4 linked regions of the Homo sapiens genome follow. The protein of the gene in region 3 purifies or fractionates together with the protein of the main gene of each other region. This does not show direct contact. Each region holds a gene or a part of one and is shown on either strand. Other genes may lie near its edges. The genes, in order: PASK, ANKRD40, ENDOV and ZNG1A.

Evidence for each region.
Region 1: the proteins of ENDOV (region 3) and PASK purify together in Homo sapiens (affinity purification with mass spectrometry; one large-scale study listed by BioGRID and IntAct). This does not show direct contact.
Region 2: the proteins of ENDOV (region 3) and ANKRD40 purify together in Homo sapiens (affinity purification with mass spectrometry; 3 studies listed by BioGRID and IntAct, with this or other methods). This does not show direct contact.
Region 4: the proteins of ENDOV (region 3) and ZNG1A purify together in Homo sapiens (affinity purification with mass spectrometry; one large-scale study listed by BioGRID and IntAct). This does not show direct contact.

Annotation. Positions count from the first base shown.
Region 1 is NC_000002.12:241,130,009-241,138,404, reverse strand, and holds part of PASK (PAS domain-containing serine/threonine-protein kinase), read left to right. Parts: intron 1-317; coding exon 318-452; intron 453-1,140; coding exon 1,141-1,401; intron 1,402-2,365; coding exon 2,366-2,534; intron 2,535-4,567; exon of another isoform or gene 4,568-4,975; coding exon of another isoform or gene 4,976-5,123; intron 5,124-5,374; coding exon 5,375-5,531; intron 5,532-8,396. UniProt on the Homo sapiens protein: Serine/threonine-protein kinase involved in energy homeostasis and protein translation. Phosphorylates EEF1A1, GYS1, PDX1 and RPS6.
Region 2 is NC_000017.11:50,697,852-50,704,914, forward strand, and holds part of ANKRD40 (ankyrin repeat domain-containing protein 40), read right to left. Parts: intron 2,866-7,063; coding exon 2,717-2,865; intron 2,043-2,716; coding exon 1,548-2,042; intron 1-1,547.
Region 3 is NC_000017.11:80,419,406-80,427,801, reverse strand, and holds part of ENDOV (endonuclease V), read right to left. Parts: intron 8,385-8,396; exon of another isoform or gene 8,309-8,384; intron 8,256-8,308; exon of another isoform or gene 7,529-8,255; intron 5,975-7,528; coding exon 5,840-5,974; intron 5,597-5,839; coding exon 5,557-5,596; intron 4,919-5,556; exon of another isoform or gene 4,669-4,918; coding exon of another isoform or gene 4,362-4,668; intron 4,283-4,361; coding exon 4,170-4,282; intron 2,771-4,169; coding exon 2,702-2,770; intron 2,344-2,701; coding exon of another isoform or gene 2,311-2,343; coding exon 2,182-2,310; intron 135-2,181; coding exon of another isoform or gene 1-134.
Region 4 is NC_000009.12:166,307-174,702, forward strand, and holds part of ZNG1A (zinc-regulated GTPase metalloprotein activator 1A), read right to left. Parts: intron 7,061-8,396; coding exon 6,964-7,060; coding exon of another isoform or gene 6,960-6,963; exon of another isoform or gene 6,183-6,959; intron 5,867-6,182; coding exon 5,775-5,866; intron 1-5,774. UniProt on the Homo sapiens protein: Zinc chaperone that directly transfers zinc cofactor to target metalloproteins, thereby activating them.

The sequences.
Region 1 (8,396 bases), on a different chromosome or scaffold from region 3:
TGAGATAATATATGTAAACCCCCCAGGATAGTAGCTGGCATTAGAGACAGCCCTCATATGTGAACTGGGATGTTATTAATGAGCTGTGGTGTGGGCCAGGCTCCTGAAGAACAAGAAGGCCCACAATTTAGGTACGTCTCTGGTAGAAGGAGACAGATGATGAAGCTCTTATCAAATTCATGTGTATATGTCTCTTGCCCTTCCGATGGAGAAGTCATGTTGGGGTCTTGCTTTTGGCTTGAACATATTGAAGCTTAGTTAAATTTACAGCTGGAGCACAAGAAGCTTTTATGATAAGCACGGGGCTTTTCCTCCAGGGCACCGTCACGTCATGTGACAGTCTCTTTGCTCATCTTCACGGGTACGTGTCTGGGGAGGACGTGGCTGGGCAGCATATCACAGACCTGATCCCTTCTGTGCAGCTCCCTCCTTCTGGCCAGCACATCCCAAAGGTAGGGCTCCTGACCTCCCGCACTGTGTGATGGGGTGGAGTTCTTAGCTCTGAATCCATAACTGGAGACGCAGACCAAGGGTTTCTGAAGGCAAGGGTGGCCTTAGGGGTGGGACATGCTCAGTTTTGAGCTTCCTGTGCGCTGAGGCCTTGACCAAGGGCCGGAGCCTATGTGGTCTCCCAGCTGACCACTCTTGTCCCCTGAGTCTTCTCCCAGGAGCTGGGCCACCCACAGAGGTGGATGCTGGGACGCTGCCCAAGGCTGAGGGGTGGGAGGTAACATCCACAGCTGCGCAGCTGGTGTAGTGCTGCCTGTGGGGCCAGTATCCTGGTGCCAGATCAAGGATGGCACAGTTGCCAGTGGCGTGGCTGAGCCCCGAGCCTGAGCCCCACAGTCCTCCCTCCCTCCCTCCCTGCTGGTGCCCGGCCCCTCACTGGGGTGTCTCACTTGCCCTGGGGTTGCTGTGCCTGGGGCGGCTCTGGACACTGAGTCCTCCCCACCCACAGAAGGGCTCTTTCCTGGGCCAGCTGGGCCTGGGAGGAGAGGGAAGGCAGAGCAGTGTGGGTGTGAGATGTCCTGGGGACCTTCCCCGATGACGTGGGGTAGAAGTCGGGTCGGACGCAGCACAGACTCAGTGCTCTGTCCACGTGAAACACGGCTTAAGCCAAACGACAAGCCTTTCTTTCAGAATCTCAAGATTCAGAGGTCTGTTGGAAGAGCCAGGGACGGTACCACCTTCCCTCTGAGCTTAAAGCTGAAATCCCAACCCAGCAGCGAGGAGGCGACCACCGGTGAGGCGGCCCCTGTGAGCGGCTACCGGGCATCTGTCTGGGTGTTCTGCACCATCAGTGGCCTCATCACCCTCCTGCCGGATGGGACCATCCACGGCATCAACCACAGCTTCGCGCTGACACTGTTTGGTTACGGAAAGACGGAGCTCCTGGGCAAGGTGGGGCTGCCCTGGGCGCCTGGCTCCCGTTCCCTGGGAGGAAGCTGCTGTGCTCTGCAGTGCGGGCTTGCGTGTGGCACAGGCCTCGCACCCGGCAAGCTCTCCAGCTCGCTCCTTTACCCAGGAAGGACCTTGGGTCCAGGGAGGGAGGTCCCTGCTCATGGCTGCCAAGCTCCTTCCTCTCCACCCTTCCCCAGCAACCACCGTCGGAGGGAGAGGAGCACTGTGCTTCGAAGCCCTGAGAGATCTGGTCTGACTGATGGACCAGGGTTTACGACACAACTGCGGGGGTTCATTTCTCACCCTAGTAGAAATACTAAAAAGTAGCTAAGCTGAATTGTAGTTACGTTAAATTTAAGTTAGTTAAAAAGCAGTTAGTGTTCTTCCTGGATGAGGGGTTCCCACAGGAGCTGAGGGCATTGAGACCTTGCAGGGATTTTGGGGGCATGGACACTTGTGCCCTCTGTGAGGTTAGAGCGGGTTCTGGCATTACAGCTATGGGCAGTGTCCCGGTGAGGGGGCCACACACAGGTTCAGAGGAAGCATCTGTCAGAGCAGCTCCTGGCCTGGGAGGAAGGCCCCACAGTCCTTCTGTCCTGGGTGCATGTCACTGTTCCGGCCACCAGTGAGCCGCGTGAGGTGAGGCTTGCAAACACAGGCTCCCAGATCCATCTAAACATGGGGCCAAAGGCCAGATGTCTGCTCCAAAGATGTGTCGATGTCACTGTAACTTGCCGCAGAGTATGTTTTTACCTTTTTCTTAAGGGGAAAATCACAGATCACATGTTGAGCATCTGAGGGGCTTCAGGTGCGTCGAAGGGCATTTGGCCCGAGGCCTTTCCTGACCTTAAGGGTGAACCCTCAGGGACTGGCTCTCCTTGTGTTCATTCCTCCCCCAGGGGGACGGTCCAGTGGGTCAGCGTGGATCCTCCAGGTTCTGAAATGTCCCTGCTTTGTTTTCTAGAATATCACTTTCCTGATTCCTGGTTTCTACAGCTACATGGACCTTGCGTACAACAGCTCATTACAGCTCCCAGACCTGGCCAGCTGCCTGGACGTCGGCAATGAGAGTGGGTGTGGGGAGAGAACCTTGGACCCGTGGCAGGGCCAGGACCCAGCTGAGGGGGGCCAGGGTAAGACGTCCTCTTCCTCCTGAATGCGCCTGTAGCTGCTGAGCCCCAGACAGCCCCATGCCTCTGAGACAGGGCTGGGAGGAGCAGGAGCTATTGTCCCTCCAGAGGCTCAGGGGTGGTGGGGGGCGGAGTAGGGGGTGACTGTTTTCTGGTTTGATGTTCCTCTCTGTCTCGGGGGCTGTGACATATTCTTATAAACATATGAGCATAGAGAAGAGAATAGAAAACCCCCCAAGAGTGCATCACCAGTGCCCATGATATCCGAGACACAGCATCCGAGACACAGCTAACTGACCGTCTTGTCTTTTCTAAGTAAACTTATATAGCTTCATGTAGTTTAAGTGAAGCCATGTAGCATATCGGATTACCGCTGACCCTTGAACAACTGGGTTTGACATTAGAGGGTCCACTTATACACAGATTCTTTTCAACCTCAGAAATCCAGTACTGGTGGGAGGTGAAGTTGGCGTATATGGAGGGCTGACTTTCCATGCACCTGCGTTCCACGGGTGGGCTGTGGGACTTGAGGGTGCTCGGATTTTGGCATTCTGGGGGTCCTGGAACCCATCCCCTGAGTGTACTGAGGGTTGACTGCAATTCCTAAATTGAATGTTCTACCAGTATTTCCTGGTTTAATTATGTTTATCCCACATAGTTTTAATTTAACATTTTAAATGATTTCAACAAATACTCCGAGTCCCTTTCATATGCACAGTCTTAGGTGTGTGGCTTGTGAAGACAGGGTGAGCACACTGCCTCCTGTCCCGAGGGACCCACTCTGGCTGGGAGCAATGAGGGGCAGTAGAACCCGCTGATGTCCTGGCAGGGCCCACGCCTGAGCTCCTGGTAAGGAGCAGGCCCCTGGCTGCTTCCACAGTGCTCATTCTTGTTGACAAGCATGGGGTGGGGGTGCGCCCTGTCCCTGGCTCTGCCCTGGTGGGGACCCCGGAACTCTGCCTCCAGGGCCTCTGCCCACCTGGAGCGTGGGCTCACTGGGTGTGGTTCTGGAGTTCCTGGGGCAGGCTGGGGCCCAAGGGTCCAGGTGATGGTGTGGCAGGGGTGTCAGGTGGGGGGGTCTCTGTTCTATGGAAGGACACAGTGGGGGTGAGAGAGAGAGAGTGGCCAGTGCTGGCAGAAAGCACAGCCACCTCGGGGCTCTGCATCGTGGTGGGGCCAGGCGGGTCGGCAGGTGCTGGCTTGCGAGGTTGTCCTGCATGCGGTCACTCGGGTATCGAATGAGTGCGAAAGTGGATTTAATACAGTCACTGAGAAAAACTACAGCTTCACGAGACTGACCAGCCTGGTGAGATAAACATTTACCGTCAGACACTCTTTAGCTGTCTGGGCATTGTGTGAGTTCTTTGGCACATGCGCCCAGCCTCCTTCCCCACAGGGTCTCGCCTGGGGCATTAGAAGCTGGATTGTAACATTTGTTTTAAAAGATACTTTGTTAGGCTGTTGGTTCTCCTTACAATCCCGGCTTTCCTTAGCATGTGGTTCCCTTCATTGTATCTGGGTTTTTCTATCTCAGTCTGTCCTTTATACAAGCTTTTTCCTCTAGCACTAATTATATTCCCCTTCCCCTTTTTCCAGAATTCCAAATTCTGACCTGTGCATGCATGCCTGTGTTGAGTACATGCTGTTTGTCGGATATTTGGTGGTGGGGGGAGGGGATCACATTTCTGTTACTCTCGCATTGTTTCCTTAGGATGAATTCTTAGAAGTGGAACTTCTGGATTCAGGGAATGAACACGTTTGCTAGTTACTGTCAAAAATGCCTCTTGGAGAAGTTATGCCGAACCACCCAACTGTCCTGGTCACAGAGCAGGCTTCTCTCGGCTTGGGGCTAGGGTTCTTTCTGGGGTCGTCCTTTTTTTTTTTTTTTTTTGAGACAGAGTTTCGCTCTTGTTGCTGAGGCTGGAGTGCAGTGGCACCATCTCGTCTCACTGCAACCTCTGCCTCCTGGGTTCAGGTGATTCTCCTGTCCCAGCCTTCCGAGTAGCTGGGATTACAGGGATGTAGCACCATGCCTGGCTAATTTTGTGTTTTTAGTGGAGACGGGGTTTCTCCATGTTGGTCAGGCTGGTCTCGAACTCCCAGCCTCAGGTGATCTGCCCGCCTCGGTCTCCCAAAGTGCTGGGATTACAGGTGTGAGCCACTGTGCGTGGCCTCCCAGGGTCCTTCCTAATGCAGGCTGCTTTCTCTCATGTAACCAAGAGACATACATTCATCCCCTACCACGTGCCAGGCTGCACTGCGTGCAGATGCCCCTGCGCTCACGGGGACTGGAGGGAGCCAGGTGACATGGAGCCCAGGAAGTGGCCAGAGCTCGGGAGGAAGGCAAAGAGGGGAAGAGGGCATGCAGTCTTAGGCTTGGGGTCCCAGGAGGCCTAGGGAAGCCTTGTAGATACCCAGGTACAGCATTTCTGGGATCAGGAGCCATGATCCCAAGGCCTCTAATACTTCAGATATGGCAGGGAGGCCAGGTGGAGAGACCTGGAGGAGTGAGGCCACAGAGTTGGGGGGCCATGGCCGAGACTTCGGCTTCTATCCAGAGTCAGATGGGAGCTGTTGGAGGGTTGTCAGCAGGTGAGTGCCGTGCTCTGACTTGGGTGTTAATAGGATCATGGTAGCTGGCTGCAGGTGTCCTGGGCCAAGGAGCAGGGAGACAGGAGGCAGAGAAGAGGGCGCTGGGTTGGACCTGGGACGCCTGGGGTGGTGAGAGGTGGTCGATGCTGGTCATGCTGTGAAGCAGTCTCAGTGAGTTCCAGGCGAATGAGCAGATTCGTTTTAGGGAGTGCCTGTGAAGAGCAAACGCTCTTTTTTGGTGTTGCTGCCAGATCCAAGGATTAATGTCGTGCTTGCTGGTGGCCACGTTGTGCCCCGAGATGAGATCCGGAAGCTGATGGAAAGCCAAGACATCTTCACCGGGACTCAGACTGAGCTGATTGCTGGAGGCCAGCTCCTTTCCTGCCTCTCACCTCAGCCTGCTCCAGGGTAAGTCCCTTGGTGGGAGGTTGCAGGTTTACTAAAAGTCCAGACAGATGGTAGGTGAATGAGGAACAAGTCAGAGAGAAATGTTCAGCCTATTATTCATAGTAACATTGAAAACTCACATGTGTTGAGCACCTGCTCTCTTCCACACACACTGACTGCTGGGTTTTCTGTGCTGCCTGGCTGAGTCCTTATCAGCCTGTATGGGAGGGCACCATGGTGTTACTGTCTCACTGTAGGGATAAGGAAACAGGCTGTGGAGAGTTCCAGAATGTTGAGGTAGATTTCAGAGAACTGATGGAATCATAATTTTATCATTTTCTTTTTTTTTTTTTTTTTTTTTTTTTTTAGACAGAGTCTCGCTGTGTCACCCAGGCTGGAGTGCAGTGGTGCGATCTCAGCTCATTGCTCATTGCATTGCAAGCTCCGCCTCCCGGGTTCACACCATTCTCCTGCCTCAGCCTCCCGAGTAGCTGGGGACTACAGGCGCCCGCCACCACGCCCGGTTACTTTTTTGTATTTTTTTTAGTTTCACCATGTTGGCCAGGATGGTCTCGATTTCCTGACTTTGTTATCCACCCGCCTTGGCCTCCCAAAGTGCTGGGATTAATTTTATCATTTTCAAAGTCATATGAAGCTGTTCTCTTTGCACATTTTAAAATATTCTATTTAGAGTAAAGAAAGTTTATATTAGAGAATTAGGAACATTTGGAAAAGTAGAAATAAAAACTTGTTCTATTCTCATAGTCGTATTGTACATAGCACGTGTGTGTGTATTTTTAACCCATTTTCTTCTTCGGAATCTTTTTTTTTTTTTTTTTTTTGAGATGGAGTCTCACTCAGCTGCCCAGGCTAGAGTGCAGTGGCGTGATCTTGGTTCACTGTAACTTCTGCCCCCTGGTTCAAGTGATTCTCCTGCCTCAGCCTCCTGAGTAGCTGAGACTACAGGCACCTGCCACCACGCCCGGCTAATTTTTGTATTTTTACTAGAGGCGGGGTTTCACTATGTTGGCCAGACTGGTCTCGATCCCTTGACCTCATGGTCCACCCGCCTTGGCCTCCCAAAGTCCTGGGATTACAGGTGTGAGCCACCATACCTGACCCAGAATCTTTTCTTATGCACAGCATGCAGTAAAGGTGCCCAAACTGTAGGTGCCCAGGTGGCCCAGGACCCTTTCTTGGCTGCCTGCAGACCCTGGGTCCCTTCCTGCACTGTGCCCCCTACACCCTGCTGCCCTGGGTCAGGGCAGAGGTTAGACTGCCTGCCGTTGAGCCTGACGCATGCATTTCCTTCTGTCTGCCTTCTGCTTATTGCTGTGTCTGTGATATTTATCCACATAGTTGTGTTTTCTAGTCTTGAAATTATTTAAAAAATATGTAATAGATACATATAAAGTATGTATGTATGTTTAAAAATATGTAATGCATGGGCCAGGCGCGGTGGATCACGCCTATAATCCCAGCACTTTGGGAGGCTGAAGTGGGTGGATCATGAGGTCGGCAGATGGAGACCATCCTGGCTAACACGGTGCAACCCCGTCTCTACTAAAAATACAAAAAATTAGCCAGGCATGGTGGCGGGCGCCTGTAGTCCCAGCTACTCGGGAGGCTGAGGCAGGAGAATGGTGTGAACCTGGGAGGCGGAGCTTGCAGTGAGCCTAGATCGCGCCACTGCACTCCAGCCTGGGCGACAGAGTGAGACTCCGTCTCAAAAAAAAAAAAAAAATGTAATACATGCATATGTGTTTTTTTAATTATAGAAGAATAATGGTAAAAGCAATAGTTCCCCTGGCCGTCTTCCAATCCCCCTCCTCCAATCCTACTCTTTCCCCCAGGGGACCGCAGTCAGCAGTTAGAGCCTTCCAGGCCTTCTTTCTTGTGCATTTAACTATAGTTGTATATTATACTTCTATGTGTGCATGTGCATATGTGTGCTCACATGTAACTGCTTCTGTTCCCTGAGCACGGCTGGGATTATACCATACACAGTGTCCTAAATGTGTGTGTATGTGTACGCACACACATGTCCTGCAGATCTTCCTCTACAGGCCTCCTCGGAACCGAAGCCTCCTGGATGGCACCCTAGCTCATGGGCCACTTTCCCACTGGCCGATGTGCCGGTGCTTTCTCTTGTTTGCTTAGCCTCCCTGATTTTCCCTTTGCCACTGTGGGTCCGCGTTGAGTGGCGTGAGAGGGTAGCTGTTGGCTCTATTTGCTCTACTTCCACTGCGAGTGGAACAGAGCAGGCGCTCAACACGTGAGTTTTCAATATTACTATGAATAATATTGCTGTGCGCACCTCTCCAGAGGTGCCACCAAGCTGAAGTGGGGCGGCCGTGGTTGAGGGCCCAAGTCTGACCCGTGGGTGCTCAACAGCACTAGCGGCCGGGCCCCCTTGCCAGTGCTCCCGTTGTCTGGGACATCTTGGTGGACAGAGGCCACGTGGCCCGTTGCTATCCTCAGGACCTTGGACACAACTCATCTTCCAGGACTTGGTGGTACCAAGGGAGTTGCCCAAGATCAGCCAATTCCTAGTCTTTCTATTGCATTGGACGTTTCTGGATGTCACAGTTCTGAGAGTTTGATTAGCATCCACTGCACAGCTAGTGCAGTTATGACTATAGAGATTTATCCATTCATTCCCCGCTCAGTCATTCACTCACTCGTTCGCTTATTCAACAAATAAGCATTACAGAAGACTTGGGGTGTGTCCCTAAGAATTGTAGTCTGGTCAGGACAATAAGCTGAAACAGTAAGACAGAACAGGGTTAGGAAGCATGAAGGAAGGAGGTGAGCTGTACGGAGTGCTTTTGTGTTTTAGGGACTACGTTGGGTGCTTCCTCGTAAGTTGTCTCCTTTAGTTCTCCT
Region 2 (7,063 bases), about 30 Mb from region 3:
TCCTCAAAAACAGGAAGTGAGAGAGTTACTTCCAGGAAAAAAGGAAAAGTAAGACTAGCTACACCCTATGGCATTTGACTGGATTTGGAAGAATCAGGATGAACTTGTGGTTTTTAATATTTTTAAAAAGTTATACATAGAGAAATATTGATATCTTTCCTGGCTATGTCCTCTCAACGGGCCTAGAAGAAATGATATACCTGTAGCAATGAGGACACCTAGTGACCACATCCTGGTGTCTGAATACCATTCTCGGTGGGCCCAAGTGGGAGGCAAGTTTGCTGTGTGCCCTAAATACCATTCTCCACCAAAAAGAACCAGGGCTTCTTGGAGAAATGACTGATTCCAGGGTTGGGGCAGGAAAAGTTATGCTATAAGCCCGGAACATCTTGCTGCCCCAGAAAGTAAGGCAGTGCTCCAAGAACAATGAAGACACATGCAAGGGACATAAGAACTAGCTTCAAGGGGCTCCCACTGGCCAAATCTGGGATAATTTGAATAATTAAAAAATGATAGTAACAGATTATAACCCACTGAATAAAATAAGAATATATGAGTCAATACTGATATGAATGAAGGAGAAGGGAAAGCCCTTCTTTACAGTAAAATACCAACTAATAAGTAGAGAAAGAATGATAGAAAATCATATCCCACAAAAATAATTGGCCTGGACTCTTCAAAAAGATCAAGATCAAAAATGATAAAGGGTAAAGATTCCAGATTAAAGGAAACTAAAACAACGTGATAACTACATGCAACATATGATCCTGGGCAGGATGCAGGGGGCAGAGGAGTACAGATAGTCCAGATAGATATCAATAGTACAGATAGTACTATTTCTGTAATAGTACAGACAGTACGTATAGTAGATGAGGGAATACAAAAGGCAATGTTTGAGACAACTGACAAAATTTAAACATGGTCTATGGATTACAGAACAGCATTAGCTCAAGATTACATTTCTCAAATTTGGTCATTTGTACTGTAGTTATATAAGAGAATATCCAGCTGGGTGCGGTGATTCACACCTATAATCTCAGCACTTTGGGAGGCTGAGGCAGGCAGATCACTTAAGGTCAGGAGTTTGAGACCAGCCTGGCCAACATGGTGAAACCCCATCTCTACTAAAAATACAAAAAAAAAAAAAAAAAAAAAAAATTAGCCAGGCGTGGTGGCATGCTCCTGTAATCTCAGCTACTTGGGAGGCTGAGGCAGAAGAATCACTTGAACCTGGGAGGCGGAGGTTGCAGTGAGCCAAGATCACACCACTGTACTCCAGCCTGGGTGACAGGGCGAAGCTACGTCTCAATAAAAAAAAGAGAGAATATCCTTGTTCTTAGGAAAGATATAATGGAAAGAATACTGAAGGGTATCAGGGTAAAAGGGCAAAAGGTAAACAATTTGTGAATTTGAGTAAAGGGAGTTCCTTATGTTAGTCATGTAACGTTTCTGTAAGTTTGCAATTATACCCAGAATACCTCATTAAATCCCACCCCTCTGGACACCAACTCCCCTGTTGCAGAGGCTGTTTGCTGATGAGGGGTTACCTTGCATATTAAATGGAAATGCTCCAGTGAAGAAAAATGGCTGGAATGCTGGCGCTGGTCCTGCATACGTCCCATTTTGAGGCTCCAGAGACATTGGTGGCTTGGACGGGACAGAAGAAAACAGGGAGCGGCTCTGACTCACTGGTGGCTGACAAACAGGACCCGGTTTTGTGCTTTCTGGTGTTCTGAGTATGGCAGAGGGGGCCGACACATCACCATTCTGAACTAGTGCCAAAGAGGTGTGGTCCCGGGGAAAGGTCCCTAACAGGGGAGGTTCCCCAGGGGGAAGCAATGGAGGTGAGCCATCTGCAGGGGGTGATGCAGGGGGTGTGGAGGGGCCCCCATTCTGCATCTGGGCTGAATCCTCTGCTGTGGGTGTATAGATAAAAGGGAAGGCTGGGTTGGCCAAATAGTTGGGAACAAAGGGCAGTTCTGACTCCTTCTTCAGCTGGGGGAGGTTGTCATCATCATCATCATCATCATCTTCTTCTTCCACTTAAAAAGAAGAAAACAGAACATTTACACAGTCCTTTCAAAATTATCAAAACAAGGTGTCTTTTGAAAGTGGTGTCTTTTGGTATGTGACATTGGTCAGTGTCAGGTCAGAAGAAAAAAGAATACTTCATTAGGTTTATGATTACCATTTTTATCATTATCTTAAATTTTACAAATAAAAAAATAAAACCTTACAATGCTGACCTCCCCAGAAACAATCTGGAATTACTATCTTGGCACAGTAATTTGCTTTTAGAAATAGAACAGTTGCCGGGAGCGGTGCCTCATGCCTGTAATCCCAGCACTTTGGGAGGCTGAGGCTGGCGGATCACCTGAGGTCGGGAGTTTGAGACCAGCCTGACCAACATGGTGAAACCCCGTCTCTACTAAAAATACAAAATTAGCGAGACGTGGTGGCACATGCCTGTAATCCTAGCTACTTGGGAGGCTGAGGCAGGAGAATCACTTGAACCTGGGAGGCAGAGGTTGTGGTGAGCCGAGATCACGCCACTGCACTCCAGCCTGGGCAACAAGAGCTAAACTCCGTCTCGGAAAAAAAAAAAAAAAGAAAGAAATAGAGCAGTTGTTTGACCAGCATTAAGAACGTAGCCAATAATACCACAAGTCTTCAATGAGTCTGAGGAAATCAAAAGTTCCCCCAAACACAGACTCACCTCCCATAATCTTCCTGATTTCTCTCCTTGATGTTAACTGGACTGGCATTTCTCCTTTTGTGGTAAGAATTTCTTTGTCAGCTCCTGATTTTAACAGGTAAGAGACCACCTGACCATGGTTTCGTTTACATGCCCAGTGTAAACAAGTCCTGTACCAAAGAAAATAATGATTGAAAAAGAGGAGAAGTGATTTTGGATTTCAGATTCTAAACATTAGTAAATAATGTATAAACAAGCCTGTTAGAGTTCAGCTAGAACCAGGTAACCGGGCTGGTAATCTCAACTTTTCACAAAGCCGATGAGCAAAATATTTAATATGCTTAAATTTTGTTTTTAAATTTCATTTCTGGCTCCTGAGAAAAACTAACTTAACCTAGGAGTTTTAATTTCAATAGCCTCCAGAAGGTAAGCTCACTGGCTGGCTAACTCCAATGATACCGTGGAATATACTCTATCAGTATCGCTCATTAGATCATCTCAGTCTCTGAAACATATTTTTCTATTGCTATATTCCTTTTCAGGGACTATGGAAACTCACTTCATATGCCACCTGAAGATTCAATATTATCAGGATAATAACCATCTCCTATCAGCAGCTTGCTCTGTCACTTAAATTATTATTATGACAGCAGATATTCTTGCCTGAATCCCAGTTGCTCACTTTCTTTTTCCTTCTTACTTTTCTTTCCTTAACACACACACAAAGGATTTCCAAATTTCCATTTTTAAAAAGTTGGCTTCTCTAGTTCTCTCCAGAAGGCTACAAACATATCCTCATCTGCGTAAATGTAAGGCACTGCACACATACTTTAATTCCTGAGGTACTTAAAAAATATACATCAACAACCAAAATTCTTCACGAACAGGTTCTTCTAACATATCAGACTCATTTAAGTAAAACTAATCACTCAATATTGTACACAGAGGAAGCAATTCTGCACACTCTGAAGGGCTACTATTTTAATACTGTACAGAAACATAATTAGCATGCCAGCAAAAACTCCATCTTAACAGAAATGAAAGATTCAGAGCAACTAAATCCATCCCTAGGTGCCAGAGCTGACTGTATATTATGGAAGGAAAATACTTTTCGCCTGTGTTTTGAAAGGTCTTCTTTCACCAACTCTCTAACTGAACTGAGATACATATCTTCAGAGCTCTTATAGCCAAATACAGAAATGAAGATTAGAACAAATGTTCAATATTGAAGGTTAGTTCACTAACCTGGGAAGTATAATTATTTGGAAAGTTTATATGATTCCAGGAAAAAGCTGATTTGCCCTGGGCTTAACATTAGTAACTTACAGAAAGTTAGCATGTCTGGCTGGCTGGGAGCAATTCCATTGATGTCTCAGAGTGACATTCTACATTATGGTTCATTAGAATTAGATTATCCAGGTTCCTTTAAGGTGTATTCCATGATGCAATGACAAAATTATTGCTAATTTGGGAAAAATAAGAGTCTCGTTAAGTTTGGGAGAGAAGAGTCTTGATCAAGCTCCCTGAAGGCAAGGAAGTGTTTGCTTGGCATGTATTAATTAATATTTACTGAATGGGCCAGGCACGGTGGCTCACACCTGTAATCCCAGCACTTAGGGAGGCCAAGGCAGGTGGATCACTTTAGGTCGGGAGTTTGAGACCAGCCTGCCCAATAGGGTGAAACCCCATCTCTACTAAAAATACAAAAATTAGTGTGATGGTGCATGTCTGTAATCCCAGCTACTGGGGAGGCTGAGGCAGGAGAATTGCTTGAACCCAGGAGGTGGAGGTTGCAGCGAGCCAAGATTGTGCCACTGCACTTCAGCCTGGGCAACACAGCAAGACTCCATCTCAAAAAAAAAAAAAGTACCAAATGAGTAAACTAAGGATAAAGTGGACCTTGCTTGAAGTAGAAGGATCCAATCTACCCTTGATTCTGGGCAAACTGGAACCTTGAGTGTGTTTGTGTGTGGATGTCTGTGGCACAGGCTTAAAAAGTGAACAATTATAATGATAAGTGAGCCCTCAAAAATGAATGAAGCATGATGAGAAAAATATGCTCCCTTTTGGAAATAAAATGCTCACTTGCTAGTAGTAGATCACTTGTTCGTGGCAAGCTTGAGAGTAAAGGAGGTAATTTACTACCAGTGGGTCTGAGAGACTCTGGGACAAACCAACTTGCTAAACTACCACCCATGTAAAGCAGGGTTAAGTCAACATAGCGTGGCCCCCACAGCCCTGTGCCTTAGTGATCATCATTTACCGTCCAGAGCTGTGCGGCTCTGGGCAGCCATAACTCAGAGCCCCTGCAGCCAGGTAATATTTTCAAGTTCTTCATGAACCAAGGGTTATGCATGACACTTGAATTACAACTGATGTGGGGGAATGATTAGTGATCAATCTAATTGATAGATTACTCTATCTTTGAACTTCAACTCCTTAAGCTTTACATTTGCAGTCAAAATATCTTATTAGTGTCAGAAACTATTTCAGACCTGAGGCACTGGGTGTCATTCATCAACAGGGCATCACTCATTGGTGCTGAAATTGTGATTACTGAGCAACTAAGACTTGAAAGCAGTCACCATTCTGCTTTGCAAATGCAAGAGAGTACGTTTTTTTGAGGGTAACCTTATATTCCATTATCTAGCATATTGCTTCATAATAAGAAAACAACAACAATGGCTAATACAGGTATAATGCTTTACGTGTTGGACATTGTTCTAAAGGCATTACATGTATTAACTTATTTAATCCTCTAAACCCATGAGGTAATACTACTGTCAACATTCCCCCCATTTTACAGAAGAGGAAACAGACATCAGCAAATAAATAAGCAAAGCACGCAGTACGCTAGGTGGTGATGAAGTATGACAGCAATAGTAAAGCAGGGAAAGGCATTAGGGAATGACAGAGGTTGGAAAGGGGCATTGTGCAACTTTAAATTGAGGGCCCAGGAAAAGCCTTGCCAAGAAGGTGACATCTAAACTAAAATCTGAAGGTGGTGAGGAAGCAAACCATGTGATATCTGGAGGGAAAGCATTTAAGAGAGTGGGAAGACAAAACGCAAAGATCTTGAATCAGGACTGTCTGGTATTCCAGAGAAAGCAAGGAGGCCAGGGGAAAAAGGTAAGCAGAAGGGCAAATCCCATGAGATTAGCACAGAGGTAAGGAGGGAAGATGTGGGGACAGGAAGTAGAAATTGTAGGACCCTGTAGGCTTTTACTGAGTGAGATAGGAGCCATTTTTGAGCAGAGTGAAATGATCTGACTTATGTTTTAAGTCAGGATCCCTCTGACCACTGTGTTAATTAAGAAGACTGTATGATATAAGCTTAGGAGCAAGGACACTAGTAGGAGGCTATTGTAATAATCCAAGCAAGAGAAACAATGGTGGCTTTGTATCAGAGGTGTAGTGGTAGGGTTAGTGAGAAGTAGTCAGATTCTGACTGTATCTGAAGGTGGAGCTCATAGAATTGGCTGACTGGATGTCGGCTATGAAAGACAGGAGGCAAGCAGGAGGCAAGCAGGGTGCCAAGGGTTCTGGCCTGAGCACTCCTGAGAGGCTGAGGACTCAGAGGAGCAGGCTTGAGGTGGTAGAGGGATGAGGGGAGACTTGGAATTCAATCTTGGACATGTTGAGTTTGAGGGGCCTATTAGACAGTTCCTCCAATTAAATCTACAAGAGGCCGGGCGCGGTGGCTCACGCCTATAATCCCAGCACTTTGGGAGGCCGAGGCGGGCAGATCACCTGAGGTCAGGAGTTCGAGACCAGCTTGGCTAACATGGTGAAACCCCATTTCTACTAAAAATACAAAAAACTAGCCAGGCGTGGTGGCACACACCTGTAATCCTAGTTACTTGGGAGGATGAGGCAGGAGAATCGCTTGAACCCAGGAGGTGGAGGATGCAGTGAGCTGAGATCACGCATTGCACTCCAGCCTGGGTGACAAGAGTGAAACTCCATCTCAAAAAAAAAAAAAAAAAAAAAAACCTATAAGAAGCCTCTTCAGGCTACCTCAGAATCACTTCACTAAACACCTCCTATGGGGCAGACATTGTGTTTAGGAGGGTAGGTCTGGCATCAGATACCAGGTTTGTTTTCTGGCTCCACTAGTTACTGTCAATCCTATGACCTTGGGAAGGGGCACTGTGAAAAGTGAGGAAACAACTTACGGTTTCTGGGCCTCAGTTTCTTCATCTGTAAATGGAGAGAACAGTAACTATGTCCCCAGGTAGTTGTGAACAAGCTAACACATGTAAAACACTTAGAACCCTATCTGAGCTGGCCGGGCACGGTGGCTCACGCCTGTAATCCCAGAACTTTGGGAGGCAGAGTCAGGCGGATCACAAGGTCAGGAGATCGAGA
Region 3 (8,396 bases):
CAACCAGGAGCGCCGCAGCGCCTGTGACCATGGGGCCACCAAGACGGCCCGGCGCGGAGCCAGGGAGAGAGCAGACCAACACTAACCCCGTCTGTGCTCTCCCAGGACCTTCTGGAACAGAGCAGGAGGTGAACCTGTTGAGAGGTGAGTGAGCTCAGGAAGAAAATGGACCGAGAGACAGAGCCAGCCCTGCAGGACACGATCCTCGGCTCACGCCCAACAGTAAGAAGCTGCGGGCTCCTGGTACGGGGTGGCTGCATATCCCAACTGGTTGCGGCTTTCCTTCCTCTGGAGGGTGGGCCCAGGATTTGGCAGGCTCTTTGCTGGTGCTAGGCACAGATCCTTGCTCTATTTCTAGATGCTTAAGGTACTCACAGGCCAGGTGTCCCCTCCCTTGCAAGGATGGGCCACTGTCCTACTCTGGGGCGCGCTGAGGCAGAAAAAGGTACAGGAGCTCCAGGAACTGTGCTGTCTGCAGCAGCAGCACGACCTAAAGTTCCTGTGGCTGAAGGCCTGGGGGACAGTTTCTTGGGTTCTCTCTCGGAAGACCACACGGCTGAGTTGGAATGGAGGAAGAAAGGCCTCTTTCCTGGGGGCTGGGGACACAGCTCACAGGCTTGAGAGTCCACACACCTGTGCCCTGAGCAAAGCCCTGCAAGGCTGTGGAGCCCGCTCTCAGACGCCACCACTGAGCACAGCTCCCCAGGGCGAGGGCCATTGTGGTATGTGGGCTGCTGCTGCCCCCTGGAGGCCACACTGCGCGCCAGCAGCCGGAAGGCCCCGGCCCGAAGGTGGTGGCCTGGGGGTTTTCCACCGGTGCTGCGGCTGCCCCAGGGCAGGCTGCAGGGCAAGCGGTGGGGTAAGATGGGGAAGGGGCAGACACCAGGGAGGCTCAGGGGCTGGGCTGCTGGAAGCAGCATGGCTTGTGCAGACCTGCGTCCACAGCCTCCACAGCACGCACAGCGGCCACCTAAAAAGGCCAATCTGCGGGCGCCCCGCTGCCAACTCACAGCCATCCAAGTCCCTGTGGGTGACGTCTGAAACCCTGGCGCACCCCAAGATGCTCACGGGCTCCCACCCACTCTGTACTTCACTGCCATCTGGCTCCGGCCACACCTTCCTGCTGAGTTTTTGTTTTTTAAAGTTTTTTTGAGATAAGGTCTTGCTCTGTCACCCAGGCTGGAGTGCAGTGGCCCAATCAGGGCACACTACAGCCTCGACCTCCTGGGCTCAGGTGATCCTCCCGCCTCAGCCTCCTAAGTAGCAGAGACCACAGGCACGCACCACCACACTTGGCTAATTTGTTTTTACGTTTTTTTTGTAGAGACGGGGTCTATGTTGCCTAGGGCGCCCTCAAACTCCTGGGCTCAAGTGATCCTCCCACCTCTGTCTCCCAAAGTGTTGGGGTTACAGGCGTGAGCCACCCTCCGGGCCCCCCATTTCTTGAGCACATCAAACTCCTTCCTGCCCAGGGCTGTCCTTCCCCTTCCTCCAGCGGGTCTCTTCCTAAGACTGACTTTTCTTGAACCCTCACTCTGTGGGCTTCTCTGGGACAGCATCCACCCGTGTCTTGTGGTCCCCTGGTCCTATCGAGGCTGTCTGTGGGCATCTCGTGCCAGCTGTCTCTCCCTGGCCCACAGGCTGAGTCCTTTCTCAGCTGAGCTGATGGCTTCAGCAGAGTTCTCACCCTTCCTGGGGGACCGAACACCAGTTTTGTGCTGGGTCCTGGGGCGGGCATACCCAAGTCCCCAGACTGGCGTCTCTGGGGCCTGCACAGCTTTCCTGCAGGAGCCTCCTGGCTCAAGTTCAGCTGCTCCCTCTGGGACCTGAGGGGCTGGCTGGGAACTGGCAGGACACCTCACCACCTGAGCTAACATCACTGATTCTCCAAGCTGGCCTGTATCTGGGTGCAGGAGGCTCAGAGAGGCTGGGAGGCTGAGTGCATGGGGTGCAGGGCCTGGGGATGAACTCTTGGGAGCCCTGCACCCCCCAGTCTACTGTCCTGACTGCAGGGCCCAGCAAGCTCTCCAGCAAGATGTCTGTGACCTGTCCTCGGCCCAGGAACCCCCGTCCTCATGTCACTGCACTCTGACCCCAGCTGAGCTGCTGGGGAGCCCTGAACAGCAGGTGGCAGGAAGCAGAGGAGCCTGTGCTGCCTCCCCGCATCCCCAGCACACCCACCTGGCGCACGGGCTCTGGGATCCGGAACCTGCAGCAGCAGCAAGTCAGGCGCACAGCGGCCTCCAGGCTCATCCTGTGGCCCACGGAGATGTAGAGGGGCCTGGTGCTGCGGTCGTGGCTCCTCAGGGCCTGTGACAAGGAAGGCGAGGGCTGTCCTGTGGGCTGGGCCACCGGGACCAGGGTCAGGACAGCCTCAGCAGCTGGAGCTCTGACAAAATGTCCTGGGGGCAAGGGGGAAGCTGAAGGGGCAGTGCTCTCAGGGGCCAGGGCCTGCCCACCCTCAGGGCGCCTTCCTGCTGCTTGTCCCTGGGGGAGGGTGGGCTCCCTCAGCACGGCTGGAGGAAAGAAACACAAACATCACACCCTGGACTCAGTCAGAGGCAGGAGGATGGATGGACGGGCAGGCGGGGGGTTGATGTGGGCAAGTGTGAGTGCACGCGTGTCTGCATGCACCTGTGTCTGCCTGCAAAGGATCCCCTACCCCGGGGCTTTGGAGGAGCTCAGGGCCCTAGCTACTCACCATTCCCAGGACAGTCCCAGAGTCTCCCAGCAGAGGGAATGAGTCTCCTCGAGTCTGCAGGAGTCGGATCTGGAAAATGGAGGGAAAAATGGGGAAAAAAACCCCTCTCTTCTTGGTGAAGGGCTGAAGGCAAGTCTCTATTTTTTGAGACGGAGTGTCGCACTGTTGCCCAGGCTGAAGTACAGTGGCGCGATCTCAGCTCACTGCAACCTCTGCCTCCCGTGTTCAAGCGATTCTCCCACCTCAGCCTCCTGAGTAGCTGGGACTACAGGCATGTGCCACCACGCCCGGCTAATTTTTTGTATTTTTAGTAGAGATGGGGTTTCACCATGCTAGCCAGGATGGTCTCGATCTCCTAATCGCGTGATCCACCCACTTCGGCCTCCCAAAGTGCTGGGATTACAGGAGTGAGCCACCGCAACCGGCCCAGGTCTCTTTATTTTTAAAACCCAGTCACTGGGCCAGGAAAGGGAAGGGGACTGATCTTGGAGGTGAGCCACAGCCCAGGCAAAGCCACACCACCTGAGACGACACTGAGCGTGCAGGCGGTGAAGTGGTCTTGTCCCTGAGCTGAGGGTGCTGCCCACAAGACCCTGTTCAAACCTGATGATGGGGCTTAGAACAAGGGCAACAATCTGCCCAGGGCCGCTGTGCCAGGCTGGCAGCCACACAGGTGCCGCCACTGCCCAGTGATGGGTGCTGAGCCCGCTTCCTTCCTGTGGCTTCTCTCCTGCTTTGGGCACATCTGACACAGCTCAACAGGCTGGTATTTCTGGCGGCGGTGGACTGGCTCATTGAGTGGGTCTAAGGTCCCCATCAACTCAACAGATTTTTATTAAGCAACTTCTCCATGCAGGCACCTGAGAGCTAGGAGGAATGAGAGACACAGTCTCTGCTCTCAGAATCTGCCATCCAGTGAAACAGCTGGGGGTGTCAACAGCTCCCTCCATTGTGAGTGTCTCACTCCCAGTGCCAACATGGGGTCCCAGAGGAGGAAGATGCAGGGGAAGGTGAGGTAGGAAGAGTGTGGGTGGCAGCTCCAGGCAGGTCTTGGCGGGAGGGGGGCCTGGAGGCTGTGGTACCTGAGCATGCAGGGGAGGAGACAGGGGCTGGGGCAAGGCGGGGTGGGGAAAGCACCAAGTGCGCCCGGGACAGCCTGGAAGCCCGTCCTGTCCCCAGTAACTGGAGGACTTAGCCCTACTTGGTGTGCCACGGTGGCTCAGAGGCAAGGGGGACCAGAGAGGCAGGCACACCCAGGAGGCAGGAGAGGAGCTCAGAGCGCCCTCAGCTGAGACAGGCAATGCAGCACCCAGAGGAAAGCAGGTCTTTCTTACTCCAGGCCACAAGCCAGGGATGAGGAGGGCAGCGTCAGCAGGCAAGGGCTGGTCCAGAAGTGTCCTCATGCCCAGGGCCACCACAGCCCCGCCACTGAGCTGCCGGGCATGGCCTGCAGCAGGCCCCTCCTCACCTTCTCCTTGTGCAGGGCGTTGTTCTCCAGCCCATCCACCTGCAGAAGTTTCTTGGCCACCCCAACACACGGCAGGTCTGTAAGGACGCCAAGGTGGCAGGCCACCCCAAAGCCTGCCAGAGAGAAAGGAGGGTGGGGTTGGGGAGGTGGGGCTGGGGCCTGGCACAGGGATTCAGGACAAGCCAGTCTTACCAAAAGCTTCCCTAAGTGAGCAGAGGTCTGTGGACAGGCAGAGGGCTGGGGAAACCAGATCTAAGTCCCAAGCAGACCTGGGCGAAAGCCCCCTGTGCCCGATGTCCTGGGTGCAAGGCCGTGGAGGAAGCCTCCTTCTCTCTGACACGGTCAGTGCCAGGGTCAGCACCTCGCTGGCGTGCTGGGATACTGCAGCTCTCCGGTCATTTCCTGCACCTCCCAGCTTCCTCTTCCCTCGACGGTGGCCTGCCAGCGCTGGCACGAGCATGTGGGTCGGCACATGACAACCCTTTGGCTCTGCACCCATGTGCGAGGGCAGCAGCCAGGGCCGAGTCACACTTGCTGGCCAGGAAGGCCCAATGTCACCCCTCCTGGGCCCTCTCTGGGTGCTGCTGCGCCGCCCGCAGCTCTGTATGTAACAGTAAAAGAGCCCATCTCCCTAGGCCGGGCGCGGTGGCTCACGCCTGAAATCCCAGCACTTTGGGAGGCCGAGGCAGGCGGATCACGAGGTCAGGAGATCAAGACCATCCTGGCTAACACGTGAAACCCCGTCTCTCCTAAAAATACAAAAAAATTAGCCGGGCGTGGTGATGGGCACCTGTAGTCTCAGCTACTCAGGAGGCTGAGGCAGGAGAGTGGCATGAACCCGGGAGGCGGAGGTTGCAGTGAGCCGAGATCGCGCCACTGCACTCCAGCCTGGGCGACAGAGCGAGACTCCGTCTCAAAAAAAAAAGAGCCCATCTCCCTCAGCCACGCTCCCTAGGCCAAGGTTCCTGGCATCAGTGGGGGCCTGGGTACACCTGTCTAGTTGTGGACAAGGGGCCTGACGGGCCATGCAGGTTGGGCGGCTGGCAGGGAAGGCCACTCTGAGCCCGGGCCCTGGGACATCTTTTGGTGATCAGGTCAGAACTGGATAGTGGCACCTGGAGATGAGCCAGCACAGGGCACTGTAGAGAAGGCAGTGGCGGACAGGAAAGAGGTAAGGGGTGAAGCGAAAGTAGACAGTCCTTTACCGGCGGTGGGGGAGGCGGGGCTGAGCGCACTGCGCGTCCCCGTTGCGCCGAGAAAGAAGCCATTGGAGGGGGCTGGCGGCAGAGGCCGAGGGCCCAGCATTTTCTGTGGGGGACGACAGAGGTGCCCTCTCCCCCCGCTCTTCCCCACAGTGCCCTCCCTGGACCTCCAAGAGCAGGATTACCTCGGTGGTGGAGTACCCCGTTTCCATCCACAAGAAGGACCTATGGAGCCACAGGGAGAGTCACAGTCAGCTGAGCTGCCCCTCGGCCCTCAGGACAGGGCCATCCCTGAGGCAAGAAGGGGGCACTGTCTCTGGGGTCCAGCTTTTTAGAAATCCTCATTCCTCTCTTCCAGGAAGCTCATGAGTCTCTCCCTGCCACTGTGGTGGTGGCGACCTGCAGCAGCCTTCCCTCCCCCAGGGGGAAGGAGGGACCTTTCTCTCGTCCTAGGGATGAGACACCTGCCTGGGGCATGAGGCCCGGCTCCTTCTCCCGCAGCTGCTGCACCAGCTCCAGCAAGAAGGGCACCTCTCGGAAGGCCAGGAAGCCCGACACGTAGGGGGCTGTGAGGCTGACCATGCGGCTCTCCTCATACACCACCTGACACCAGGCACGCAGCTCAGTGGGAAGCACAGCCTTCGGCCACCTGCTCCATCCCCAGTCCGTCCATGCCCTGCCCCCCTCATCCTTCCCTCTCCCTTACGTCACCCTCATGGCTCCCCTTCCCTGCCTCACCTATGAGATGATGGGTTTGGAAGAAGGAACTAGAAGATGTACCCTGCAAATTGGTGGTGGGCAGGTACCCCCGGGACCTGGTCCATAGGAGCAGACCCCCCCAGGACCTGGTCCGTAGCAGCAGCTCCCCCGGGACCTGGTCTGTAGCAACAGCACCCCCACCCCGCCCCCACCGGGACCTGGTCCATAGCAGCAGCCCCCTGGGACCCGGTCCATATGAGAACCCCCACCCCGGACCCGGTCCACTGGAGGAGCCCCAACTCCCAGACCTGATGTGTATAGTAGGAGCCCCTGGGACCTGGTCCATAGGAGGATTCCCTGGTATCTGGTCTGTATGAGGAGCCCCCAGGACCTGGTCCATAGGAGGATTCCCCGGGATCTGGTCTGTATGAGGATTCCCCGGGACCCGGTCCATAGGAAGATTCCCCGGGATCTAGTTCATAGGATGAGCCCCTGAAGCCTAGACTGTAGAAGGATTCCCTGGAATCTAGTCCATAGGAGGAGCCTCCGGGACCTGGTCCATAGGAGGATTCCCTGGGATCAGGTCCGCGGGAGCCCCCCAGGACCTGGTCTTCATCAGAAGCAAGGCTAAGGCTGCTGGCTGCATCACCTCTGCCTGCCCCTTGCTTTCCTGGTGTCTCCTCCTTTGTGTATTGAAGCCGATGCCCCACCCCACCCCTCCATGGGTTGTTGGAGGCTTAAAGAAGACACAGTGTTGGCCAGGCGTGGTGGCTCACGCCTGTAATCCCAGCACTTTGGGAGGCCGAGGCGGACGATCACCTGAGGTTGGGAGTTCAAGACCAGCCTGACCAACATGGAGAAACCCCGTGTTTACTAAAAATACAAAATTATCTGGGCGTGGTGGCGCATGCCTGTAATCCCAGCTACTCGGGAGGCTGAGGCAGGAGAACTGCTTGAACCCAGGAGGCAGAGGCTGCAGTTTAGAGCACAACATGGCAGGCCTGAGTCTCCTAACCTTGTGTTTTCCTTAGTCACACTGCCCTTAATGTGAAGACGTTTCCCACTATGTCCACATTCTGCAGACCTGTCTACCTTCCTGCAGTTTTGTTACTGAATCCCCCAAATCTCTTGGTGACAGCTTTCAAATCACAACTTCCACTCCTCACTTGTGGCTGGATCAATAATTAAACACACCAAAGCAGACGGAGTGCTCTGTATTAGCACAGAGGGTTGGGGATCATTCTCACAACATCTTCATCAATGACTCAATGGGGAAACTGATCAAATCTGCCCATGACCCAAAGTGGGGAGGGTCCATTCTGATAACAGAATTTGGGTTCACAGAGAAGCCAGCAGGCTGGATCACTGACATCCCCACAGAGTAAAAGTCACTTTGCACAGTGACATGTGGAATTCAAGTGTGGCCTGAGTTCCCACAGGAGGGGCGTGGCTGCTTACATCTGAATCTCTCCCATAATGTTATCATTCAGGTGACATTATGGGATGACTATGATGTGTAATCAGTATGATAATGACACTGTGGCTGTGGAGGAGAATGTCATTCTCAGGACAGGCCTGCTGATGTCTTCTGAGCTGTCACAGTCGCTGGGATGTACGGTACACACGCACACAAAGAGCGCATGTGCGCGAGAGAGAATATTCCAGAGCAGCAACAGCTGAACCTAAGTAGAAGGAATACAGGTGTCCAACGTATCCTTTTCCAATTTGGGGGGATGTATGTACATTTTCAAATTAAAAATCTGGGAAAAGAAAAATCACTGTATGATTAGCGTAGGGGGCAGGTCTGGATGACCAGCAATCTCAACATAAGCCAGTGACCTGGTGCCCCTCAAAAGCTACCAGTGTTTCCAGCTACACCGACTGAAATGGCGTGGGTGACAGTTAGGTCTAGGGACTTGGGTAGACCACATCCAAGTTCCTGCATTTGATTCTGAGTGCAGACGGAAAGATGGATTGTGTGAACGGAGGGCATGACCAGAGGGCCACTGACCAGTGAAGAAGCTGGACGTCATCGCAGCCTCTTGGGACAGTGTGGTCAAGGAGCAGGCAGCTGTTTCCAGCAGCAGAAGGGCTGACAAGCAGAAGGCAGGGAAGATCCGTTCTGTTTTGCTACCTGAAGGCAGAACTGATCGATGGGAGTCACAGACAAGTAGGAGTCAGCTCCCTGCGGAGCAGAACACACTAGCCATTGCTCAGCGTCCAGCACACAACAGGCTCCACCAGGCCTGTGGAGCAGCACACACCAGCCATCGCTCAGCATCTGGCATGGAATGGGCTCCGCCAGAGGCCTGCGGAGCAGCACACA
Region 4 (8,396 bases), on a different chromosome or scaffold from region 3:
CCTCCACTCCAACAATATACAGCTTTCAAACTAGGGCTCAGGAGAAAAACAAACTTGGGTAAGGAGAGTGGAGTATTAAAAATATTTCCCATCAGCACCACATAGAAGTTCTCCCACATCAAGAAGAAACATGTATGCATATGTATTACAGCCTGACAAAAAGAAACACGCACATACAGGGAATAAAAAGCAAGAAAGAACACAAAATGAAGAAATGAATAGGGCACACAAGTGGCAAAGAACCCATTCTGGAAGGATACATAACCCAATAAAAACTAAAGAAAATTCTCAACAACTTCATCATAATGAAGAACTTGAAAACAATACAACCTTATAATAAACAAGCTCAAAAGCAAGAAGAAGCAGAATAAGATGAAAATGCGTTTGTAGCGCTAAAGAAACTTAGAGCCTATATAACACAATGACTTAACCAATTAATTCATTTAAAATATCAAAAACAGGACAGACACTGGAGAAAACAGAATTATTGACAAAAAGAAAGGCTTCAGATGATCACAGTAAATGCAAAGGTAAAAGACAAATCAAAGCAATTAGAATACATACGAACAACAAAAGAAAATTCAGTATTAAAAAAACTGGTGTCATGAAGTAGAGGATCTAATAATTTGACCAAAAAAAAGTATTCATGGTAATAAACAAGGAAAATGTTCTTAGAAGAACTAAGGGCATACTATAATTTAGGGAAAAATGATTATAAGTGACACTTAGATATACCTTGTTTATATTACTGAATTTCAAAAATAAAGAAGAAAACTCTCAGGCATTTTAGATTAAAAAAAAAAATTGCCTTCAAGGAGGTAGGGAGAAAAATCAGACTTTTCTACAGTAACACTAGATGTCCCAAAATAATAAAACAGGGACCACAAAGTTCTAATGAAAGTGTTCCCAAACAAGTTATTTTTCAGGAACGAAAGCAATAGACAGACATTCTCAAGCATTAAAGAAAACAGCAAGCATTGAAACTCAGAGACTATAATACTCACAAATTCTTCCTAATAAAAAGAGAAAACATTGGACAAAGAAATCCAGCCAATCAAACACTAGGAGATTATGGAACAACATTTACAAAGTTGAGGGGGAATAAAGTGTGACTGATAAATTTTATACCTAGCCAAGTAATCCTTCAAGTAATATAAAAACAAAAGACAAATATTTTGAATCAATGAAGTGTATAAGAACCCAAAGAATGCATGCAGTACCTGTAACTTGAAAAGACTGCCTGACAATGAAATTCAATCAGGAGATGGACTAACTCGGGAATGGAGAAGCAACAGTACTGGTAATAAGCACCAAAACTATTAAAACATAGAACTAAAAGAATTATGACAGAACCATGACAACATAAAGAATATGATCAACATGAAACTAGGCCAATTAATATCCTACAATGGCCTGTAAGTGTTCAAGTGAAAGGAACAGTCACCTGTTTCTCACTTTAAATCAAGAGCTAGAAATGATTATGCTTAGTGAGGAAGTTATGTTGAAAGCCAAGATACGCCAAAAGCTAGGTCTCTTGAGCCAGTTAGCTAAGTTGTGAATGCAAAGGAAAAGTTCTTGAAGGAAATTAAAAGTGCTACTCCAGTAAACACACAAATGATAATAAAACAGCCTTATTGCTGATATGAAGTGGTCTGGATAGATGATCAAACAAGCCACAATGTTCCCTTAAGCCAAAGCCTAATTCAGAGCAACCCTAACTCTCTTCAGTTCTATGAAGGCTGAGAGAGGTGAGGAAGCTAGAGAAGAAAAGTTGGAAGGTAGCAGAGGTTGGTTCACAAGATTTAAAGAAAGAAGCCATCTCCATAACATAAAAGTGCAAGGGAAAGCAGCAAATGCTGATATAGAAGCTGTAGTAAACTACCTAGAAGATGTAGCTAACATCATTCATGAAAGTAGCTACACTAAGCAACAGACTTATTTTTTATTTATTTATTTATTTATTTTGAGATGGAGTCTCGCTCTGTCACCCAGGCTGGAGTGCAATGTGCAATCTCAGCTCACTGCCACCTCCGTCTCCCGGGTTCAAGCCATTCTCCTACCTCAGCCTCCCAAGTAACTGGGATTACAGGCTCCCACCACCAAGCCAGGCTAATTTTTGGTATTTTTAGCTGAGATGGGGTTTCACTATGTTGGCCAGGCTGGTCTTGAACTCCTGAACTCGTGAACTGCCCACCTCGGCCTCCCAAAGTGCTGAGATTACAGGCATGAGCCACCGAGCCCGGCCAGCAACAGATTTTTAATGGAGATGAAATGGCCTCCTTTTGGAAGAAGATGCCATTTAGGACTTTCATAGCTATAGAGAAGTCAATGCCTGGCTTCAAAGATTCAAAGGACAGGCTGACTCTCTTGTTAGAGGCTAAAGCAGCTGGTGACTTCAAGTTGAAGCCAATAATCATTTACTATCCTAAAAATTCTAGGGCCATTAAGAATTATGCTAAATCTCCTCTGCCTGTTTTCTATAAATAATAAAGCCTAGATGACAGCACATCTGTTTACAGCACGGTTTAGTTTAAGCCCACCATTGAGATCTACTGCTTAGAAAAGAAAAGATTCCTTCAAAATATTATTGCTCATTGACAACGCACCTGATCACCCAAGAGCTGTGATGGAGATGTACAAGATTAATGTTGTTTTCATGCCTGCTAACACAACATCCATTCTGCAGCCCACTGATCAAGGAGTAACTTTGACTTTTAAGTCTTATTTAAGAAATATATTTCATAAGGCTATAGCTACCATAGACAGTGATTCCTCTGATGGATCTGGGCAAAGTAAATTGAAAACCTTCTGGAAAGGATTCATCATTCTAGATGCCATTAAGAACATTTGTGATTCATGGGAGATCAAAGTATCAACATGAATAGGAGTTTGAAAGATGATTCCAGCCCTCACAGATGACTTTGAGGGATTCCAGACTTCAATGGAGGAAATAACTGCCGATGTGGTGGAAACAGTAAGAGAACTAGAATTAGAAGGGGAGTCTGAAGATGTGACTCAATTCCTGCAATCTCATAAGAAAACTTTAACTAATGAGAAGTTGTTTCTTATGGACGGGAAAAGAACGTGGTTTCTTGAGATGGAATCTACTCCTGGTGAAGATGCTATGAACACTGTCAAAATGACAACAAAGGATTTAAAATATGACAGAAGCTTAATTGATAAAGCAGGGTTTGAGAGGACTGACTCCAATTTTGAAAGAAGTCATACTGTGGGTAAAATGCTATCAAATAGCATCATGTGCTATAGAGACATCTTTTATGAAAGGGAGAGTCAACTAATGCAGCAAACTTCATTATTATCTTATGAAATTGCGATAGCCACCCCAACCTTCAGTAACTACTACCCTGATTGGTCAGCACCCATCAACATCGTGGCAAGACCCTCTACCAGCAAAAAGACTATGACTTGCTGAAAGCTGAGATGATTGTTAGCATTTTTTAGCAATAAATATTTTTAATTAAGGTATGTATGTTTTTTAGACAATTCTATTACACATTTTATAGACTACAGTATAGTATAAACACAGCTTTTTTTTTTTTTTTTTTTTTTTTTTAAGAAATGGGGTCTCATGCTGTCATCCAGGCTGGAGTGCAGTGGTGCAATCATGACTCACTGCAGCCTCAAACTCCTGAGCTCAAGTGATCCTCCCAAGTAGCTGGGACTACAGGCCTGTGACATCACACCCGGCCAAAACGCATAACTTTTATATGCAATGGGAAACAAAAAAATGTGTGTGACTCACTCTATTGTGATATTCAGTTTACTGCAGTGATATGGAACTAAGCCCACAATATCCCTGCGGTATGGCTGTACAGTATAAGAATCACCTGAAGGGCTTATTAAAAACAGCTTGCTTGACCCCCTCCCTTAGAGATTCCGATTCAGTAGATCTGGGTTGGTCAAGAATTTGCCTTTCTAACAAGCTCCCAGCTGAGGCTGAGGCTGCCATTCAACATACTACCAAGTAGCACTGGCATAGAGAGATCCCTGGAATAAAATGTACCTACTTGTGTGTGTGTGTGTATGAATGTGTGTGTGTGTGTGTGTGTGCGCATGTGCATGTGCGTGTGTGTGTGTGTGTACAGTCTTGCTCTGTTGCCTGGGCTGGAGTGCAGTGGCGTGATCTCGGCTCACCGCAACCTCCGCCTCCCAGCTTTCAAGCGATTCTCCTGCCTTAGCCTCCTGAGTAGCTGGGATTATGGGGTGCGCCACATCGCCTGGCTAGTTTTTGAATTTTCAGTAGAGACTGGATTTCACCATGTTGGCTAGGCTGGTCTTGAACTCCTGGCCTCAAGGGATCCACCTGCCTCAGCCTCCCAAAGTGCTGGGATTACAGGCATGAGCCACCATGCCCAGCCCCTACTTGTATATCACAAAAGTGAGATGATTACTTTTCAACTTTCTTCTTTGTATTTTTTAGGTATTTAAATTTTTTTACAATGAATGTTCCATCTTTACCCAAACAATAAAATCTTTATTGTAAAGAAAGTTAGAAGCAAGAAACATTAACATTTTTTATAACTACAATTTGTATAAAAGCTTTCTCTGTGATCTTTAGTTTTTCTTTCTTCCTCTGAAAAGCTGAATCGTGTTTAATTAAACTCTCAAAAGTATCAAGTTTTTGTCTATAAAATGGCAAAACTGGCTATGATGAAATAAACTGATATTTGCTATTTCTAATAAAAGCATACAATATATTTTTCTTTCTTACCAGATTCAAATATTTAACACCAACATATTAGTCCAAGTCCTATCATCAGTCAGATTTATCAGAAAGGTATGAAAACCCATGCCTACTATAAGGACCAAAATAGCCTAATTCAATACTACTTTGAAAACATGGGGATGATGTTATTATGTAATTGTTTTAAGTACAATAACCACTGATCACATTTGAACTCTCAGGATACTTCAATATTTCTTTTGGACAACTATGACCTGTTGAGTAAATTACCCCCAAATACTTTAATATAGTTTTACAAATCGCCCCAATGCCAGAGACCCAGATCAAAAAAAAAAATAATGGTATGGGTCAGATTCACAGAATAAGCACTAACTTTTATGCAAAATGAAAATAAAGATTTTATCTAAAAGTTATTTGGGGAAAATAAGCAGACTTTATCAAGAATTAGAGCTTGGTAAGAAGGTAACAGAAACCCATTGTTAGAAACAGGTTGACTCTGTGTAGCTTTCCATAGTAGAGTTCAGAGTTTCCTGTCATGATTCCCTTATCAATGCAGTGTAATAACTACTTACACAGCACTTACATTGTATTAGGTATTATAAGTAATCTACAGATGATTTAAAGTATATGGGAGGATGTGCATAGCTTATAGGCAAATACTACACCATTTTATGTAAGGGACTTGAACATTAATAGATTTTGGTATCCTCAGAGATTCCGGAACTAATACCCCATGGATGCCAAGGGACAACTGTACTTAGAGGTAGAACGTCTCTGCTCTTCCTACATGTCCTTATTTTTAACAACTTCTGTTCTTACAAATAATCCTAAGTCAATCAATAAAACTTCAAATTCTATTAACAGCTTAAAAGTACCAAGAAATACTCTGTTCATTCATTCAACTGCCAAAGAAAATGACAACCGAGTACTTTTCCTCTTTTAAACCAAAAAAAGTTTTTGGTTTAATACTAACAAAAGCTTTAATCCTCATTTTAGATATTCCTCTAATACATCTATTTACAATATATCACAGAACTATATTCTGGTTATTAATAATCTCACTTCTTACCAGGGTCTGCTAATCCAGTGGTCTCTAACAGTATGTAATCAAATTTCCCCTTCTTTTGCATCAAATTCTCAATAGCTCTAAGGCCACTGTCCCTGGAGAATACCAAAACATAATTTACAGTTAATTACCTAAATATTTTGAAGTGATTATTATAAACACTTTAAAATATATTCAACAACCCGAGACAAAAGTACCCTTGGGAATGTGAAAATTTAACTCACTTCTAACCTTCTAACAAAATGTCCGTCCCATATTTACCAGTGAGAAAACAATAGATGCATATATATAATAGGTAAAAAGAAATCATATACATAATACTTTATCAAAATTAAAAGCAGAGGAAACTTTATCTGACCAAGTATCTTTTTATAGCTTTATGAAATTTTTAAAAACCAACATACAAAATAATGATAAAATGTATTAACTATAGTAGTTTAATATAATAGCTAAAGAGACACTGATATTAAACACCATATAATTCTATTTTACATTAGGATGCAAGGTTTTAATTTCCTTTTTTCTTATTTTATCAAAAGTGAAGGAAAATCCTTAATAGATTATATTTTGGTTGTTCAAGAAAGTCTGTTATAATTTTATCCTTGCCAAAACATTTGACACAAAGTCAAATACCTAAGGGAGTAAATGATGCCGAAGAGATTTAATTCACTAGAATACACAAAATTAACAGTACAAGTAGTCATTTTTATAATTCATTCAACAAATATTTGAGTGCTACTATGTGTTGGGTAACTCTTCTAGGGTCTATGGTAGACTAGTGAACACTGTCCTTGAAAACTTAACTAGTAGAACATAACGTAAGGTTTTTCTCTTTTTTGATAGTCATTTATTTTTTTTATAAGATTGAACACTTAGAAGTATGACCAATGACAGATTAAATTCAGAATAATCATTTTTTACATATGAGACTTTCATGCACTAGAGATTAAATAAGCCCTGACATCAAAAGCAATAAAAACTCAATAAAAGGACCAAAACATTAGAGCAGATAGAAAAGACAGCAAGAAACACTTTAAGAAAATGCTTCCTAATAAGTTTATTTTCTATTTGTTTGAAAATACAATGAAGCAAACTGTGTAAATTCAGTTAAATTACTCAAGAAAATTAAAGCTGGAAATATAATCAATAAACATTTCTAGTAAACCATGTACACAGTAAACACATTCCTCACTTCACTGAACAGCAGAGGCAACCGTTTCTAAGTTCCAGCCACTCTTCATAGAGCTCTCCACCTTGGCTGACAGCTAAGGATTTCTCCAGCGCACTTCCTAGAATAATTAACAAACAGCACTCTTTAGCTTATGTCCATTAGCCAAAAAAAAACAAAGATGAGGATAACTCAATAATGGAGATCTTAAAGCAGAAACTGCATTTTATAACTTATATTCTTTCATTTTATTCATGCAGCCTCGATATCTAAATTACAGTACACTACATTATTTTAGCTTTTATTTAAGATGACTTAAGCCCTGAAAAAGACACATCCTAAACTGATAAACATACCTACTTCCTCCTTAGGCCTCTTACTTGGCCACCCCCATTTCTTAATAAAGTAGCTATCTTGAAGGCATTTTTTTCTTGTCCAGGGTAAACTTTCTAAATAGACCAGTATGTTTTATATACTGGATTTTGTATGCCCTTCAACCTCTTAAGAGACTGCCTTATCTATCTTTTTCTTTTCATTCTTCTTCTAAATTGTTTCTGTTAGACAAACTGCTGAATATTCCCAATGAGTAAAAACCCTAGTTCATCTTGAGGAAGGTTTTTGGCCAGTGTACCACGTGCTCATTTAAAAATTAAACTTATAGGGAGGCCAAGGCGGGCGGATCACGAGGTCAGGAGACCGAGACCATCCTCGCTAACACAATGAAACCTCATCTCTACTAAAATTACAAAAAATTAGCCAGGTGTGGTAGCGGGTGCCTGTAGTCCCAGCTACTCAGGCGGCTGAGGCAGGAGAATGGCGTGAACCCGGGAGGCGGAGGTTGCAGTGACCCGAGACTGCGCCACTGCACTCCAGCCTGGGCAACACAGCGAGACTCCATCTCAAAAAAAAAAAAAAACCTAAACTTTTAGTCAAATTCACATATTTTCCTAGCAATACTTACTTAAGAAAGAATAAACTACATTTGAAATGCTTGTTATCTATAAGAATTATTTTAAATGTTTTACTTTTCCTCTAATAAAGAAATATACCAAACAGTGAAGTTCTAAAAGCCCACTAAGCAAATGAGCTCCCATAAAATCGAGTAGTTTTACACTTACATATTTTTTATATTTCAGCTAGGTATTAATAAAGAGCTTCTAAAGAGGTTGCTACAGAATTTGGACTATATACAGAACATTAATGAAACATGAAGAAAAGTATTGAGAATGCTGTGAAAAATAAAATTGCAAAAATGATCCAGGAAAAAATAAAGAAAATAGTAAGAATAAATGTAATCAGTGTGCAATAGGTTATTTAATAAGATGATGAAAAAAACAGTCTGTTATTAGAAATCTCAGGATTTTTGCCTAAAAAGCACTTTTCTCTTTCGTTTATTAAAACCAGAAATCGAATATAACTGGCTTCCCATCCTGTTCATAAAACCTAGCTCTTTTACT